Linked DNA regions of Homo sapiens: region 1 is linked to region 2. Evidence: fine-mapped QTL for protein levels in blood plasma. A gene starts in region 2. The other region holds a variant in brackets. All regions are shown on one strand. Distances are between the middles of the regions. Region 1 holds the start of VSIG2 (V-set and immunoglobulin domain containing 2). Region 2 holds the start of ESAM (endothelial cell adhesion molecule).

Evidence for each region. A credible set is the group of variants that fine-mapping cannot tell apart. PIP is the posterior inclusion probability: the model's chance that the variant is causal. Protein levels are from the aptamer-based SomaScan assay of Sun 2018.
Region 1: its variant is the best candidate, but not a certain one, in a credible set for the plasma level of the ESAM protein (Sun 2018, PIP 0.57).

The regions. Positions count from the first base shown.
Region 1 is chr11:124,745,948-124,754,720 of GRCh38, forward strand. It overlaps NRGN (neurogranin), which reads left to right. Exons shown (of 4, transcript NM_006176.3): 3 at 18-35; 4 at 457-1,263. VSIG2 (V-set and immunoglobulin domain containing 2) reads right to left here and starts at 6,308. Exons shown (of 7, transcript NM_014312.5): 1 at 6,130-6,308; 2 at 5,476-5,633; 3 at 4,767-4,974; 4 at 3,761-3,919; 5 at 2,697-2,816; 6 at 2,443-2,587; 7 at 1,527-1,720. The coding sequence starts at 6,190. The coding sequence ends at 1,588. It overlaps ESAM (endothelial cell adhesion molecule), which reads right to left. Exons shown (of 7, transcript NM_138961.3): 5 at 8,694-8,773; 6 at 8,267-8,393; 7 at 7,179-8,014. The coding sequence ends at 7,699. It overlaps NRGN-AS1 (NRGN antisense RNA 1), which reads right to left and starts at 1,018. Exons shown (of 4, transcript NR_197587.1): 1 at 826-1,018; 2 at 292-383; 3 at 1-51. RefSeq lists enhancers at 498-1,031, 5,506-6,067, 8,426-8,720 and a silencer at 998-1,257. The variant C/T (reference allele first, on the strand shown) is at 3,564.
Region 2 is chr11:124,760,502-124,769,236 of GRCh38, forward strand. ESAM (endothelial cell adhesion molecule) reads right to left here and starts at 1,789. Exons shown (of 7, transcript NM_138961.3): 1 at 1,584-1,789. The coding sequence starts at 1,653. MSANTD2 (Myb/SANT DNA binding domain containing 2) reads right to left here. Exons shown (of 4, transcript NM_001308027.2): 4 at 5,997-7,527. The coding sequence ends at 6,675. ESAM-AS1 (ESAM antisense RNA 1) reads left to right here. Exons shown (of 2, transcript NR_120577.1): 2 at 4,228-5,424. RefSeq lists an enhancer at 1,344-1,847 and silencers at 1,578-1,987, 2,528-2,577, 5,692-5,986.

The DNA.
Region 1 (8,773 bases), 15 kb before region 2:
GCCCTGGACCGAAGAAGAACTGAGCATTTTCAAAGGTAATGAACACGGCCCCTAGGCGGCGGGGTGGGACCCGTGAGTGGGAGAAAAGGATCGAATCCCCAGCCCTTCCCTCTGCCCACCCTCACCCCTCCCAGCCGGGGAAAATGCACCCTGCCCCTGCGGGTTTTCTGATACATCCAGACGCCCGAGGCTGCGACGGGGACATACCTGGACCAAGACATGCGCAGCCACCCCATTTGGCTGCACAAGCCCGGCCAAGGGGCAGAAATACATCGCGGCGCGCACACGTACCTGCCGCGGGGCTCATTTCAGCGCTTTGACTCGGGGTGGGGGTTCTGGGTGACTGGGGCCCTCTGGCACTCACCGCCCAAAGAATCCTGGTACTGAAAGGGGGAAGGGTGGGGGGAAGAGGAAGTAGCAGAAGAGGGCAGGTTCTCAGACCTTTTCTCTCCTCAGTTCCCGAGGAGAGATGGATGCCGCGTCCCCTTCGCAGCGACGAGACTTCCCTGCCGTGTTTGTGACCCCCTCCTGCCCAGCAACCTGCCAGCTACAGGAGCCCCCTGCGTCCCAGAGACTCCCTCACCCAGGCAGGCTCCGTCGCGGAGTCGCTGAGTCCGTGCCCTTTTAGTTAGTTCTGCAGTCTAGTATGGTCCCCATTTGCCCTTCCACTCCACCCCACCCTAAACCATGCGCTCCCAATCTTCCTTCTTTTGCTTCTCGCCCACCTCTTCCCGCACCCAGCATGCAGCTCTGCCTCCGCAGCCTCAGTGCGCTTTCCTGCGCGCACTGCGGAGGGCGCCCTAAGCGTCACCCAAGCACACTCACTTAAAGAAAAAACGAGTTCTTTCGTTCTGTGCGCAGCTAAAAGGGGCGCCCTACATCTCCGTGCCACTCCCGCCCCAGCCTAGCCCCAAGACTTTGGATCCGGGGCGAGATGAAGGGAAGAGGGTTGTTTTGGTTTCGGACGACCCTTGCTCTGACCGGAAGAGAAGTCCCTATCCCACACCTGCCTGTCACGTTCCCTCCCCTTTCCCCAGCGCACTGTTGAGGGCAGCCTCTCCAGCTCTCTTGTTTATGCAAACGCCGAGCGCCTGGGAGGCTCGGTAGGAGGAGTCTTCCACGGCCCCGCCCCGCCCCTGTCGGTCCCGCCCTCCCCCCCGCCGGGCTCCTGGGGCTGTGGCCGAAAGGTTTCTGATCTCCGTGTGTGCATGTGACTGTGCTGGGTTGGAATGTGAACAATAAAGAGGAATGTCCAAGTGTTCAGAGGGTGCCGGGGGAGGGAGTTTGGGTGCACAAGGCCTCCGCTTGCAACTTGAACAAGCCTCCTTGGGCCAAACCAGAAACCAACAATCGGGGGCTGGTGGGGTGAAGTGGAGGGGCACCTAGGTTGAAACCCACCCCTTTGACCCGACCAAACTTCCTGCCTACCTTTTCTCGGACTTCAAGCCCATTCCTTCTCTTACTGTTAATACTCTGAGCCGCCTAGAGGAATTCGCCATACCAGCAGAAAGAAGAAGGAGACAGTATGGTACCCACAGACTTTAATTATTGATATTCCCCCTCACCGCCCTCAGGGATCGGGAGAAGTCACACGACCATAGGGAGCTTGGACTTGGTGGTCGTCACGGTGCTGGCAGACGAGGGTCTTTCCAGGAACCCCTTGCTAGAATCAGCCCTCATACAAGTGTGCTCAGAGATCCCAGGAGCGATGGCATCCTCCCTGATGGGTATAGGCAAGTTCTGAGTGAACAGTAGAAGCCTCCTGCGGAGGAGGGCCGTCCTCTAACCTGGGGACTCTTAAATTTCACTGTGCTTGAGAATAATCTGCGGAACTTTGGTTAAAATGAAATTTCTGGGCCTCATCACTCCCCAACGCACAACTACAGGAAGGCTAGAAGTGGCCTGAATCTGAATGTATAACTAGTTCCCGGTGATTTCTGTCCAGGTAATCTGAGGACTCCACCTGGAGAAATGTTGCTCTGATCCCTATCCTAGACCCTGACTGGCAGCTAAAGTGGATGACAGAGGCAGTTTCCCCTCCCCTTTCCTGATTTCCTCCACAGAAGAATTGAACTCAGCTGACTGCTCAGGACAAATCCATTTCCTGGCATCTACAAGCCACTACTACTCCCAGGTGGTTAAAATATATGAAAATACCTTCGGAACAGAAAAGTAAACTTTATTAAATATGAGGAGGGGCAGGGCAGTCCTGCAAACAGCTTCCCTGCCACAGCTTGTGGACCAGCCACTCCACCCTGTACCGCTTGCCTGTACCCTCAAATACACAGGTTACACTGCTGCCACCAGCAAATTCCACGGCTGAACAACACCTCCTGCCCCTAAACACACTGAATGATGTCGGAGTTTGAGGGTTGCAGGCACCCGCTTTTAACTCAAGCCCTTTCCTCCCTCCTTGCGCCACCCCCCAGCCCTCCTGCTCACCGAAGGTCACTACCCCCATATGTCTCCTTGGGCTTCTTCCCCCTCTCTTTCTGGAACCTGACCAGGCAGAACGCAGCAACTGACAGCAACAGCACGCCCAGGAGCACCCCAATCAGAGCTCCGGCCACTCGGCCTTGGGAGGGTTCTAAGGAGATACAGGACCCTCACTCAGAATTGCAGGCTTTCCTCGGCCCACCAGCCGACAGCTTCCCCAACACAAGGCTGCTGGCCTGGCCTCCACCCAGCATCCCTACCGGTCACAGAGAGGGTCAGCTCACAGGATGCACTGCCCATCTGGTTGGTGGCCACACAGCGGTAGGTGCCCGAGGAGGTCAGGGAGAGGTTGGTGAGAATGAGCTGGCCAGACACCTCATCTAGAGGATGAAGAGGAAGTGTTCCACGACTCATTCAACTCAGTGAGCAGCTCTACGAGGACAGCACATTTCATGTCATCCTTATAACAATCCTGTCAGGGAGCAACTAATTTTTTTTCACTGGGGAGGAAACCGGTTCAGAAGAAGGAAGTAGTGTGTCTGAGGTGACCCAGAGAGGAATTCCAAAGCTGCTACAACTTACCTGTTCTTTCCACCCTACATAGCTGCCTTTTTGGGAGGAGGAGGACTGCACACTCATGAAGGATTCAGAAACTGGCAATGGAGTCGGGGTGGGGTGCTTACTGGCTGATGTCAGGTTCCTGGTTTGGGGTAAAAGGCTTGATTGCTAGAAACTGCATCCTGTAGGGTGGCTCTAAGCTGACACAAATGCTTTTCTAAACTGTTTACCTTTGCCTTAGAAGGCAGAGCACATACCAGGAAGGTGATCTGGGGGTGGGTCATTCATTTCTGGATTGATAAAGGAGTTTGCTGGGGCTGGAGAGAGAACTGGATCCAGGAAGAGGAAGCCAAGAAACTAAGGCTCCTCCAAAGAAACTGGTTAAAAGATTCCAGCCAGTCCATGCTACTCTGCCTCAGTTTCCTCTCTAGGAAGTTTGGAAGTGGTCCACGACCCTTAGGAAACCTAAAAGAAATCTCCCCAAGGCAGATGGGTGGTCATCATCAGATTGCTCCCTGCCCTCTACTCTCTTCCAGGATATCAGCAGTATATTCAGCTTGAGAAATACC[C/T]CCAGGATCATGCAGCCACAGACTGCAGAAAGACAGGCAGGAGGGAACAATACAGGAAGCCAAGGAAGAGACAGGGAAAGGTATAGTGGTTTGTGTCATACCCCTAGTCATGGAACGGATAATACGGGTGTGTGGGATTTAGAGACCAGATTTGCCCAGGTCTCCAGTACCCTCTTCCTGATGCCCTGGGCCCTTACCTTGAACCATGCTGCCAGGAGAAGGTGTAGGAAAAGTTCCAAGACGCACCCAGTTGTACACTGGCTTAGGAGCCCCCTCGGAAGAGCTGCATCTCAGTGCAGTAGAGCCTCCCACAGAGGTTTGTCCACTCTGACTGCATAAGGGATTACTGGGGGGAACTGCAAAAAAAAAAAAAAAAAAAAAAAAACAGAAAGTTCCTCAGCAATCTTCCAGCCCCACTCCCAACTCCATTAGGTGCTACATTCTCTACTTCAATACCCCTATCAAACAGTGGTCCTCTTGGGTCCACACACCACTGCATCCCCAGGAACTGAGGGATTTCCACTATTGGAAATTCTGATTGTTAGAGAAAATTCTTCTTCATGTTGAGCCAAAATGTGTGTTAACATAACCTCCACCCATTGGTTTCAGTTCCTGCCCTTTGGGCCCACAAAGAGAAATTAAAATCTCTCCTCCACATGACAGCCCTTTGGATAGTTGAATCCAGCAGTAATACACCCATCCGAGGCCTTCTCTTTTCCATCTAAACACTGCCAGTCTCTGTGATAGTTTTTCTGGTTGCTCATCTCTGAAAAGGCTCTAGTTTGGGGTGAGACAGAAGCTCTGAGCACGAAGTTGGTGCTCAGTAATAGGGGCCCTTGTTCCTTTGGTGGCCACTCCCCTTCTCTGCCATTGACCTTGGGAGGGACAGAATCCAACTACCGATGAGAGCCTCCCCCATGATGGAGCTGCTGGGAGCAGGCTCAGATCCCCATGTATGGGAAGGACTTTCTCTCACACACTCTGTTATTAGGCTCTGATGGAGGAGATGCTCTCGGTGGAGGGTGGAGTTGGAGTATGACCATCTGAATTAGAAGACTTGGAAAGGGAGTATTTTCACTTGGGGCCCCCAGTGCAGTTGTGTGCTTGGGCTAAAAGTCAGAAACCAGAGATTTAGCAAGACCAGTGCAAACGCCCCAAGTATGTGAAAGAGTATGTGGCTCGTGGATCCCCAGTCTGCCTTACCCAGCACAGTAAGGTTGATTAGCCCCAACCCATTGGTGTAGAAATCTGGTGGGTTGTTGACTTGGCAGAGGTAGGTTCCAGTATCTGAGGGGTGGACGTCAGTCAGTTTCAGTGTGGCCACCCCCACTGTGGGGGGGTTCTGAAGCAGGCTGACCCGCTTTGACTTAGAACCAGTTGGATACAGATGGCCATTGGTGAAGTACAGGATCTGGGGAGAGGCAGAAGACACACATATGTGCCTGTTTCTGCCTGGCATCAACTCTACAGTCCTTCCTCATCAAAGTGGGTATAAGAGGCCTCTGACTTACATCAGCCAGGGAGGCTGATACCCTTAAGCTGGAACTCCAAAGGTCTCTCTGTCCCCAAACACCACCCCCTTTCAGGTGCTAAATGAACCTGATCCATTGGTCTCTCTCTCTCTCTCTCAAAGAGAGAGGCAGAAGAGGCAGCATATTATCTTGGTATCAGTCACAACACCTTAGTGTCAATGGATACACTAAGGCAGGGGAGTTGGAAATAGGAGCTATGGAAGAGGAAAGGAAGATACACGGTCAGGCAGACTGCAGCTCTGAAAAGATCTAGGGAGAGCCCACTTACCTTTTCATCCAAGCATACTGATCCCCAAACTCCCCCTCCCGACCCCATGCCCTCATCCTGGGCTCCTGTCCCTCCAGGCCAACCCAGCTTCATGCAGTCGCTCTCAGCTCACTGGATGGGACTCAGAGATGGGTTTCCCAGGCTGCACAAAGCTCCACTCCAGGGCGAAGCTGTCTCCCACCGACGTGCTGTAGGTGCAGGTCAGCTCGGCTGTCTTCCCCAGGGGCGTGCTCAGCGGCTCTGTGGGTACCTTCACCTCCACGGCCAGCCCTGGGGCCGGGGACCAGAGGGAGGTGGGAACCCAAATTCCAGTGATCTGGAGGGTCGGGCCCACCCCCGGGCATCTATATTGGAAGCTGGGGGCTCCCTCCCCAGAGCACAACCCTCTCCCCTCAATCCAACCCCTCCCTTCCCAAAACCTGAGGTTTCCGGGAGGGGCCGGGTCTTTGTGGGTAAAAGAGCCGGAACCGGGCCAGGTAAGAGGGTGTGTGTGTTTAGCAGAGAAAGGAAAACACTAGCCCTGCGGTGGGGTGGTTCAGGCCTGTGCCGCGGAGAGGCCCAACTCGCTCGCCGGCTTGGGGGTCTCTCTCCTACGCCCTCCGGGCCTTGGACACCCCCTCTCCGGCCTCACCTCAGGCGCCTTAGGGCCCCTGGCGCCCACGGCAGCCTCATCTGGCCTGGCGGGGACAGAGTGGGTCCGAGGAGCCGGGGAAGCCAGGCCTATGCCCCCCAGCCCTCGCCGTGGTCCCGCCCGGCCCCTCCTCACCACTCAGGCACAGGAAGCCTAGCAGGGCCCCGCAGAGAAAGGGCCCCGGGAGCTCGGCCATGGCCGCGTCCGGCCGTCCTGTCCTGCTCCTGCCAGGTGGGCGGTCAAGGTCGGTCTGGGTGTCGGGCAGGGAAGGGAGCACCCAAGGGCAGCCGCCCGGGCTGGGCAGGAGCGAGACTGGTATCTCAGAGCAAACAGGGGAGAGGCCGGCGCCGCAGGTTAAAAAAAAAAAAAAGTGCTCCTCCCTCCTCTCCTCCAGCCCCGATTCTGCAATCCCTCTGTCCCTTCTTCCTCCTTCCTTCCTCTTCTCCCCAAGGTCTGAAGCTGTCCGGCCTTGGGAAAAGCGCTGGGCTTGGGGTGGGCCTTCTGCAGAGACGGAAGGAAAGCTGACTTTGGAAGGCGTCCTGATACCCCAGAGCTGGCAAGGGGAGTCCCCACCTCGGAGCCTCACTGTGAGTGTGAGCCCCAGGCCGCAGACCCTTCCTGTCCACAGCGCTTTTCATTTCACCACTTACTGAGGTAGGAGTCTCTGTAGAAATGAGCATCTCTCCATTTCCAGAGCCACTCCATTTTAGGGGCAGAGAAACTGAGACCTAAAGGAGACCTCACCCTTGGTAGGAAAGAACATGGCAGAACTTGGACACAGACCTGCACCTCATACTATGCCCAGCTCTCCCTCAGTAACAACAGAGATCTCTTCCAGATGGGCAAGGAGTGTTTTGTTAAGGATTCCGTGGTGTGGGAGAGGAGCCCACGTGAGCTTCCTCTCCCCTGTCCCTGAAGAGGAAGCAGATGAGGTACACGTACCCCCTAGCCGGGAGCACTCAAGCTCCAGCAGAAAGCGTATCAACTCCATCCCTCTGCTGTTCAGAGTAGCTTAGAGTCTCCTCCCCTTCTCCACGTGACAAACAAGGACCCTTCTAAACACTAGAAGAGCTGCTCTAAGCCTGTGGGGGGAAGCCCTCCTGGGTACACAGCTTGGGAAGGGGTCCACTTTGCATCCTCCTGAAGCTCAATTTCAAGAATTCTTAGTTTGAAAAGGCAACTTGTTTCTTATCTCATACAAACATTATGTATCTTTATTTAAATTTGCAAATGAAAACAACACATATTTCATGTTAGTTTTAATAAGAGATTCCCTATCCTCTGCCCCAGTAAAACCTAACCAAGCCAGCCTGACAGGTTATATCAATACAGGGAGCTGGAGTGGGAGCCAAGGGTGGTGTTAGATAGGGGTGGGGTACAGATCAAGGGGGCCTGGGAGACTCAGTGACTGGAAGTCTCTGCCCCTCACTCTTGGTGAGTAGCTAATTTCAGCAGCTGGCTTCATAAGGAGGAGTCAGGGGTGGGTGGAGGCTCCTCCCAATTCCAGATCCACTTCCTCTTCTCCTTCTGTCTCCTGGACACTTAGGTCTTACTGAGATGGTTTTCCCACAGTAAAGAGAGGTGGGGGCAGAGTACTAAGGGTCAGGAGTGTGACTCTTTCCCATGACTCAGGCCTCTGTGCTAGAGGTGACCCTTATAGGAAGGAGAGACCCCAAATCCTTTAGCCAATGAGTGGTGGGGTCATCATACCAGAGAGCCAGCTTGACTCTGGGCAGGCACCATCACAGGCACAGCACCCATGCGGCTCAAGCCAGAGGAAGAAACCCCACCAGGGATGGGGGATATTGGTTGAGGGTGGGCCCCATCTGTCGTGGGCAGTCTTGGTGAGGGCAGGGCCTGGCTGGAGAGACTGGGCGTGGGGGTCAATGCACCAGGCCTGGGAGGGCCATGGGGTGGCCGGAGGGCTCGTGCGGAGGTGACAGAGGAAAGGGTCCCATTCTTGGAGATTGTGTCTGAGCTCTTGGGCCAGGGCAGGGTCCGGGGAGCAATGGCATCCTCCCTAGTCATCAAAGAAATAACAAGAGGTCAGAAGTGGGTGGGGGAAGGAGGAGAGAGTTTCTACCTGCTTGGTCTTATATACCACCTCTGCCTGCACACTTCAGTACTCCTTTCCCTCTCCCTTAAAACCTGCCCATAGGAATGATGTTTCAGCCACTGACCCCATCCCAATAGATGAGAGCTGCCTGAATTCCCAGCCTCTGTGAGGAGAGCTGGGAGAGCCCCCGCTGCAGCAGACACCAGGGACACTTACTTGATATCATTGGCTGGCTCCTCCAGGGCCTTGCCCCGGCGGTGGTACAAGAGGACCAGCCCAGCCAGCAACCCCAGTCCAACCAGGGTACCCACAACAGCTCCAGCAACCACTGCAGCTCCAGGCCCTGGAAAAGGCGTCGTGTCAGAGGAGGACACCCAGCTGAGGGGTTCTCACCCCTCTCCAATCCCACTCTCCCCACCCCATCTGCCACCATACACATTCCCTCTTTTTCCCTGTCAAGAAGAGGGGTGGCTGTTGAGCAGGAAATGACCAGTCACTGACCAACCATTTGTACAAACATTTGATCAGGGGAAGCTCCGTGCCCTGCTACAGAGACAGGCCTCAGCAGACAGGCCTCCTCCCCACTTGCAACCCCTCCCCCACCATTGACCACTCTTCTTAACCACACTTACCCCTCACTGACCTGTGCTCACTTCCAGCGTCACATTACATTGGGCAGTGCCCACCTCATTGTGGGCCTTGCAGACATAGACTCCAGCCATG
Region 2 (8,735 bases):
AGCAGCACTGAGCCGCCGAGGAGCCTACTGAGCCGGAGAGCCTCCTCCAGAGCCCAGAAGAGCGGAGCCGGGCGCCTGCACGTTGCACCGGGGTCACCAGTGCCATTTAACCCTCGAGTGGCTGGCGGGAACTGGGCAACCCCCCAGGGGGACCGATTGGAACTTTTGAGTCCAGGTCTTCAGTCTGACAAACTGAGGCTCAAAGCTGGGGTAGGACAAAGGGTTGCAGATGAGCAGCAGGTGAAGCCTGGGACACTCAGGCAGTCAACTTGAACTGTCCTCCCTGGCTTCAGAGATTCCCCCAGCCCCCACCCCCCACAAGGAAGGGGGATAGAGTTGGGGTGGAATGCAGAAGGAACAGAGCTGAAGTTGAAGTTGGGAAAGGCGGGATGAGAAGTCTGAGGGATCCTGGAGCAGGCCCACCAAGCCCAGAGGGACAGAAGGCTACTTGTGGCCTTGGTGTGGCCTGGGGGGCTGTACTTGAGACTCATTTTGTCCAAGGACTATAATATTGCATGCCCCGACACCTGTGGGGCACAGAACATGCTAAAGGGGACACTGGTGATCCTCATCTCTGTCCCCATCATTGTAGAATTTCACTCTACAGCTTCCCAGGCCTTACTTGTCCTGACATCCTCCAACCTGAGAAATGAGTTAAAGTCAATATAGCTAAACCCACCCTTCACTCCCATTCGAGATCCTTGAAGGGAGATGGCAAGAAAGCTGAGGGACAGCAAGTGAAATAGTTTAAAAGGGCCTAGTCCTGCCGGGTCCTCTCCCAGATGGAGTTCTGAGCCACCCCAGCTTCAGCTGAAGCCAGCGCCCCTGGAGGCCTACAACACTTCCCAAACACTTGCTCCAAGGAGGTTCCCTTCCTCTCTGACCCTTGGCCACCCTCCTCCCAATTTCCCCTCTTCCCTTTGGCTCTGGAAACCAATAAGGGTGGTGGGCCTTGGGGGGGTGGGGTGGTCACAATTCTGTTTCTCTGTGCGTTTGAACCCCTCCCCCATTTCCTGTGTCCCAAATGACCTCACGGTCGTCCTTTTGGGGCACCTCCCTTGATTCCCAGGGCAGGAAGCAGGAGGGGGCAAGAGAGAGCATCTGCGCTGGGGAATTGACACGAAGTGCGTGTGTCAAGCCTGGGGACCAGGGGTATTTCCCCGGGGGATCTTCCTCATCAGCTTGTATGTGGGGTCGGGGATGAGAGGGGGCTAGAGTTAAGTCCTTAAGCTCTTTAGCCAGTGTCTCATCTAGCGGCTCAGCTCATCCGGCTCTGCTGGGTGGGGGGTGGGGAGTGGACAGGGTGAGGAATGGTTCCGATAACTCACCCCAGAGGTATCCAGGTCTTCCGAGAGATGCCCTTACCTCCCCCCGCCATCCGCCCCCACACCCAAACTGGGGGCTGTCCCCGACAAAGCGAGAAGTCAGCGCCAGCCAGTGATGCCCTGGAGTGGGATTAGGAGGTCAGGGGAGGAGGGCGAGTCGTGGGACCCAGTTCCGCAGCAGTGGCCAAAGTTCTCCCTCAGGGTCGAACTCACCCCATCCCGCATCCCAAGTCCCCTCCAGGTCCGGGTTTCACTCACCGAGGGCACTCAGCCCCAGGAACAAAAACCGCAGCAAGTTGGTCACCAGGGGCCCCGGGAGGGAAATCATGGCCCTCCCTGGCCGGGACGGAGTCAGGGGCGCCAGCCGCGGGACGCACGGACCTGCAGGTGCCGAGGCTGCGCGACGGCCGGAGCGTGCGCGGGAGCCGAGCCGCTGACACCCAGGGCGGCTCCAGCCCAAGTCTGCGCGCCTGTGTGCCGGTGGCGGGGTGGGGACCGACGGCGACAGCGGGGCGGGGCATTCGAGGGGGCGGAGAGGTCGCCGTCCTCCCGGGCGGGGCGCGCGGGGTCCGCCGCCCGGGGGCGCCCCCAGCGCGCGGACGGCGGGACCCTGCGGCCTCCTCCAGGTCTGGACGCAGGGAGGGGTGAGGTAAGCTCTGATGCCCCACGAGCCAGCCAGGTACGAGTAGAGGGGGAAGAGGAGGCTCCAGAACTATCCTGAGCCGTAACCTTCCCTTCCGCCGGGGTGGGATAGGAAGGGTGACCAGGAAGGGTGGGAAATTTGGGGACTATCCGAAGTCAGAACCACCCGTAACACCTGACATGTAAACGCTCCTGGGCTCTGGCTCCAAACTTGGGGGTGCCGCATCCCCGGCCCAATCAGGGCGGTCTTCCTGAAGGAGGAAGAGGGGAGCAGCGTTTTCCAGCTGCAGGGAGAGGCCGGAGCGCCGGCCGCGCGGGCTCCCTGGCACAGCGGGAATCTGTGGCTTTCCTGGAGGCGGGGGCTGCGCGGCCACCGGAGCGCGGCAGCGAGGGCGACGGCAGAGGTCGCGCGGGAGCCCAGGGCGCCCCGGGACGCGCCAGCGGGGAATCTTCACCCGCGGGCAGGAAAAAGCGCTCCGCGAGTTCAGCAGACCCCAGCCCAGGCTGGAGGATTACCCCGGCCTGTGCCTCATACTCCGAGCAGGGAAGGTTGGCACAAGGTAGTCCCGGGAGCTGAGCAGGAAACTGAGGCAACGTGCGTGCTGCTCCCAGCTTAGCCCCTGAAATGAGCGGCGTACGGGCCTGATGCTGACTGGGGAGGAGGGGCGGCTGCGGGAAGGAAGACAGGACAGTCCCTCCGTTTCTTCTTTATCCCCCAAATCTTCAGTGCCTCCCATCCCCGCAGCGAAAGGCTCAGGCGCGCTCTGATCCTTTAATTCCCGAGACTAGATCTTGGTCGCTGTGAATTGAATTTTACGCCCCCCTTCCCGCGCCATTCGGTCAAAAGGCACCTCTGCGCCCTCTGGCGGCCGCCGCTCCCTTACAGAAAGGCACGCACCTGTTCTTGCTTTTCTGTCCAACAGCCAAAAAAAAAAAAAAAAAAAAAAAAAAAAAATGCTTCAAACATCCCAGCACAGCTCAACCACCCAGCAAAGGTCAGTGAGGGAAGAAAGCATAACAACGAATTCCTGACGCTGCCCGCTCTGCGGGCAGAGCTGTCTGGGAAGAAAAGCAGCCAGGCCTGCGGGATTCCATTTACTGCACATAGTTTTGCTGTTTTAACAGAGTGTAGTCCCTGGGCCCACACTTCACACAAGATCTTTTTCTATACAGTGCCCCATATGCCCTCTCAGCTGCTTCTTTCTAGTGTGACCTGCCTGGCTCCTCTTCAAATACCTGCCATGCAGTGGCTTTGAGAAATGCCTATGCAAACACAAAACTGCTCATGCAAACCCTAGAATCTAGTACTTGGCAGCTCAGTGGAGGCACAGACAACAGGAAGAGATACCTGCCAGTCTCACACTCTTGTGTAGGGAGCTACAAACTTGGACTTGGCCAAGCAGATTGTGTGGTGGGGTTGGGGGCTGTTGGTTTGGTTTTCCTATTCCATCACACTCAAATTTTTCTTGGCTTTAGTCTGCATTGCAAACCATCTCTTGTAAACACCCCTCCTTTGTTTCCAGACAAGTCACCCCAAATAAGTAACTCCTTCCAAGAGAGGAAGTACAAAGTCTTTTGGTTCTAACCCAGAAACACCAAGTATCTAATCACACAGGCTGTGCTTATCCTGATCAAGTGCTACATAAGGTGTAGCCTCAACATTCATTCCCTGTAGCTAACTTTTCCTTCAGAATTCAGATCCCAAATGACTTGTGACATGGGAAGTAAAGCTGCAACCAATGATTTGTAGTCAGTGAATGTCTCCATGTGACACAGGGGCAGTCTCTTCAAGATTCTTTGACCGTAAAGAATTGTCCTCACTGTCTCCTGTCTCCTATTTCAGCTATTTCTTTCTTCTGACCCTGAGGGCAGTCAAGTCGTAGAAGTTAGCAGAGCAGCTCCATTACTTTGTGAAAGTTTTCACCAAGATGCATTTTAGGGTGGACTGCTCTCCACCCTGGTGTAAATCATGAATGCTGACACAGATGATCTATGTGCGACCTGGGAACTGCTTACATAAACGTGTGCAAGAGCTAGTTCATAGTTTCATATGTTAGAGACTTGCAGGTCATTAGTGTTTCTTCCAATCACATCTCATGTTAGATTCCGAAAGTAATTCCTAATATTTACCTTTACATTTGAATATACTTTCTCTGTCCCCCTTGAATCAGTTATAAGGCTTCATTAAGGTCTAAATATTCCATTTCTTATTTTCGGCAGTGCTCATAGTTATCTGACATCCTGCTATCTTCTTTTCTAGACTGTTCTGGCCAAAGAGACTGGAGATCCAGTATCAGCAAGCTACTTTCTTGGTAAACCTCCATTTCCCAATGCTCATCTTTGTCCTCTACCCCCACCCATCCCAAGGCAAATGATGAAAACATCTATTGGATCCAGCCTTTGCTATCTTCTCCATGCTGCTCATAGTGGGTCTAGCAATGTCCCATTCTCGGTAATGTTTGGTAGGTCTAAAACATCCTCACGAAATGTTCCCCAAATGTTCTGCTCCAGCTGAGCAACTAATAACAATGGGAAGATGCAGAAAAAAAATGCATGGAGCATAATGTTAGTTTTGGGACTCGTCAGTGGCAACGTTTTAGAGATGCCATGAAGAATTCCTGGTAATAATCCTTCTTCCTACAGCATTTAGCAATGAATACTATGGGATTATGGCTAAAAGATGGTCAAGACTGCCTCAGCCATTAGGATCAGAATTCTAAGTTCCAAAGAAGAGCAAACTCAAGAGGATTTCCTCAGGCCTCTGACTATAGATGCTGCCTGGGGAGAACAGGTGCTACACTCAAAACATTCTCATTTTATTTATATCCTCCCTGAACTAGTACCCAACTCCATAACCCCAGACTCAAATAACAGAAATAAAAGCCATCTCACTGATTATAAGCTCTCTAGTTATTACAAAAATAAATAAGCATCAATCAACCAACAGGCATCAGAATGAGAAAATCACTGATTTGAGACATTCAGGCTGCAGGAAAAGAACACTTTTTGTTAATATGTAACTATATCTTCAGTAGTACAGAAAAATGAGAAGAACGAGAGTTCTTACCTGGATTTGCGGCTCACTTAAAGTAGAGCACCTGAGATGCTGGGAAATCATAAAGATAAATAACCAATCTAACAAATTCCTGCCATGAGACCAAAGTGATCCTTGACTACTCTATTAGTAAGCGACTCTGAGCCAAGAGTACGAACCTGTAAGTGGAGTGGTGGTTGGCCCATTAGAAATCTCTGAAAGATCTAAACATGACAGTTACCTTCCTACTGGACTCATACTTCTCAATTCCCTCTCCTAAAAGAATACTTTTGGGCTGGCCCCAGTGGCTCACACCTGTAATCTCGGCACTTTGGGAAGCCAAGGTGGGAGGATTGCTTGAGGACAAGAGTTTGAGACCAGCTCGGTGGAAACATAGCACCATCCATGTCTCTACCAAAAAAAGAAAAAAAAAAGTGAAAAACATTGCTGGCGTGGTGGCACTTGAGCCTGTAGTTTCAGCTGCTCAGGAAGCTTTGAGGCAGGAGGATTACTTGAGCCCAGGAGTTCGAGACTGCAGTGAGCTATGATTGTACTACTGCACTCCAGCCTGGGTGACAGAGCAAGACCCTGTCTTAAAAAAAAAAAAAAAAAAAAAATTTCTACTGGATCTTCCTTCCTTTTGAGAGATAGCAAGATTACATCAGTTTTCCAGTTGTACTCCTTGAGAGCTGCCCCTGAGTACTGAGTGTAAAAGATGAGGAATGAGTCTCTTACAAATTGATGTACTTAGGGTCAAAAGGATTATCCTAGTCATTTTTAGTCATTTTTCAAAGAATTACAAAATGAGATGTTCAGTGACCTTTGGTACTCTGACAGTAAATAATGACATTGGTCAGTGAGGTATAGAGAATGAAAGGATGTGAAGATACCCTGCTCTGTTTGTTCTCTTCATTCTTAGCAGTCAAGTCAGAGCGCAGCCCCCACTGCCAGTGCAGCCACACTCTGCTACAAAAAGCTCAACTAGTACGCCAAGGGGCCAGGAATTACTTTAATTTTTTTTTTTTAAAAAAAGGTTTAAATGGCAACACAACTGTAAAGTTGGTACATCACAGAAACAAAGGTCTTTGCAAGCAATACTGATTGGAAATAGCAAAACACTTGGCTGGTGAAAAAAATGAAAATCTAAATTATATACAATAGTAGCTAAGGGTGATATTGAAAAAGTCTTTTTAACTGTGAATCAAGATTTAACTTGCCATTATCTATTGCTTATTTATTCAGGGTTGTAAATATTACTTATATAGAGACATAGAGATGTGTAAAAATGAAACATTGTGAAAAAAATACAATTTTTCAATTTCATATGAAACTCAAAGTATAAGTTTTGTCCAATATGGAATGTACCTACATTTGTTTATATTAGGGCTCTAAAATCCATTTAAAAATTGTTTTTCTGTTTTTAAAAAAGAAATAGCTGACCCACCATGCAAGTTCGCTATATATCTTGCTTGCTCAAAATGAGCATTTTCAGGTGAGGTCTGTTTTTTCTGGCCCAAGTCTACTATGATTCCTTAGAAGTCGTACTGGCCCAATTGAAGAAAGGGTTTCCATGAAGAGTCTGACGGCGGCATCTGGATGAGGGGTGGTCCGGGTAATGGGAAGTGAGTAGAGAAGAAGGAGCTAAGAGCCCAAATCCTTATGAAGGATGACATTCAGTTGTTAAATTTTAAGGGGTATCCAATGGCTTTTTCCAGGCACTCAACTAAAGAGCCTGCGGAAAGAAAATCCCTCTCTACTTCTACAAATTTGATGTAGATGGATTTGGGGGAAACTCCGGGATCCACAATACAGTTCTGAGACAAAAACCCGTTAATACCAACCCAATCTTTGCTGAAGGTTTTGGTATTCGCTTGGAAATGTAAAAATAAGCACTGCTGTAGAGTCCTGACCTCAGCAATCCCGAGGTAGCAATAGATAATTCGGGTGGGTTCTATTTCCACCTGTAATGAGGCTTGTGCTGAAAGGGTTTCCAGGTCAACCCGGCCCTCTTTTCCTGGGTCCAGGGAACTTTGCTCCATGTGTGGTGAGAGGGGCCTCTCAATACATTCTTCATAGCCAATGGCATAAAGGCCTGGGCTTTTAGGAATACCCCCAGGCAATAAATATTGAACAACATTCCCACCAGTTGGTTTGGAGTGGGCAATGGGTATCCAGTCAATTTCCATGTGCAGCTCCAAGCACCTAGCTTCGCTAATAGTGATCTCTAAAAATTTGTAGTAAACATTTTTCCAGTTCATTTTCTGCACTCGGGTCATAATGATCCGTCCTTCAGGCTTCTCAGAGTTGAAGTACTCCCGAAGTCGCTTGCCAAGGGGCACCTGGGAGCTGATCTCAGCATAATGGTAACGGATATCCTCTTTCCAACGGGTGTTATAACCAATTCCAAAAATGGCCAGTTTATTAGAAAGATGGAGCCTTGAAAAGTCTGTCCAGCTCTGAAAAAGTTCCCATTTCAACTGTACCGATTCCAAAATCTGTACAATATTCTGCATGATGTCTCTCTTCCTGGAAAGACAAATAAAAGTCAAATTCCCTAAGTATCTAGAACAGCGGTGTCAGATAGAACTTTCTGTGATGATGGAAATGTTCTGTATCTGCTGCCCAATATGGTGGCCACTAGAACATGAAATGTGGCTGAGGTATTACATTTTTAATTATATTTAGTTTAAAATTACATTTAAATAGCCACATGTGACTAGCAGCTACTGTACTGGGCAGTGTAAGTCTAGACAATCAACCTATTAAAATGAAAAGAAACACACCCCTAGCAAGTTTCTAAGAATTAATGATAAACTGCTTTCCATGACTTCTACAGCCTCACTGTATAATCAGAATCAATACCTTAGACTCTAGGATTTCAGAAATCTATGGATCATAATATTTTAAAGTGGCTATTATGTCTATGATGGCCTTCAGACCTACCTACCTACCAAAATAAGGTGAAAAATGCTGTATTTAGAAAAGTATCTGGCGTCACTTAAAATAATTAACAGCTTAATTTCTAACCTGGAAATTCAGAAAGTCCAATAATGGGCTTTGTGTGTGCTGTGGGAAAATATACAACTGATTATGGCTAATGACCTTTTTAAAATGACATTTTCTATTTGTCTGAAATTCATTACTAATCCCAAAATTAATAGAAGTCAGGTTAGCACAGAATTAAGATCTGGGAATTCAGATGGAAAAGGCTCACATTAGGCTTAGATTTCAAGAGAGCAACATTCAAGATAATAAATTGAGACTGTTCTAGAAAACCCTTTATAAAGGGAAGCAAAAATATAGGAATTATTTCAATTTTGACTCATATACTTAACAGAAGAAGACAGAAAATGCTGGAATTTTTATTTCACGGGCTGCTTAAATCATGTAATTTGTATATATATGAAGCTATATAAAGTTTGCTTCTCAAGTACAGCAAAACTTTGATACTGGAAGATTGGTTCGTTAAATATTAACTTGGCAACAAACTACTACCCTCCACATCAATTACGGGTTTAACCTATAAAAACACTCAACTACCACACTTACATACAATCATACACAGGCAAGAAAGGGGGTGTGCGTGCTAACAGCTTCTTGAAAACGGGCTCTGGAAGGAGCTTGATCCTTGAGACTTTTCCTGCTACGTTCTCATACCTTCTAGGGGAGGAGCTTTGGGAACATTCTGGCGAGGCTTCACGTGGCCATTCTCAGTCTGTCCTCTCGCTCTCCTT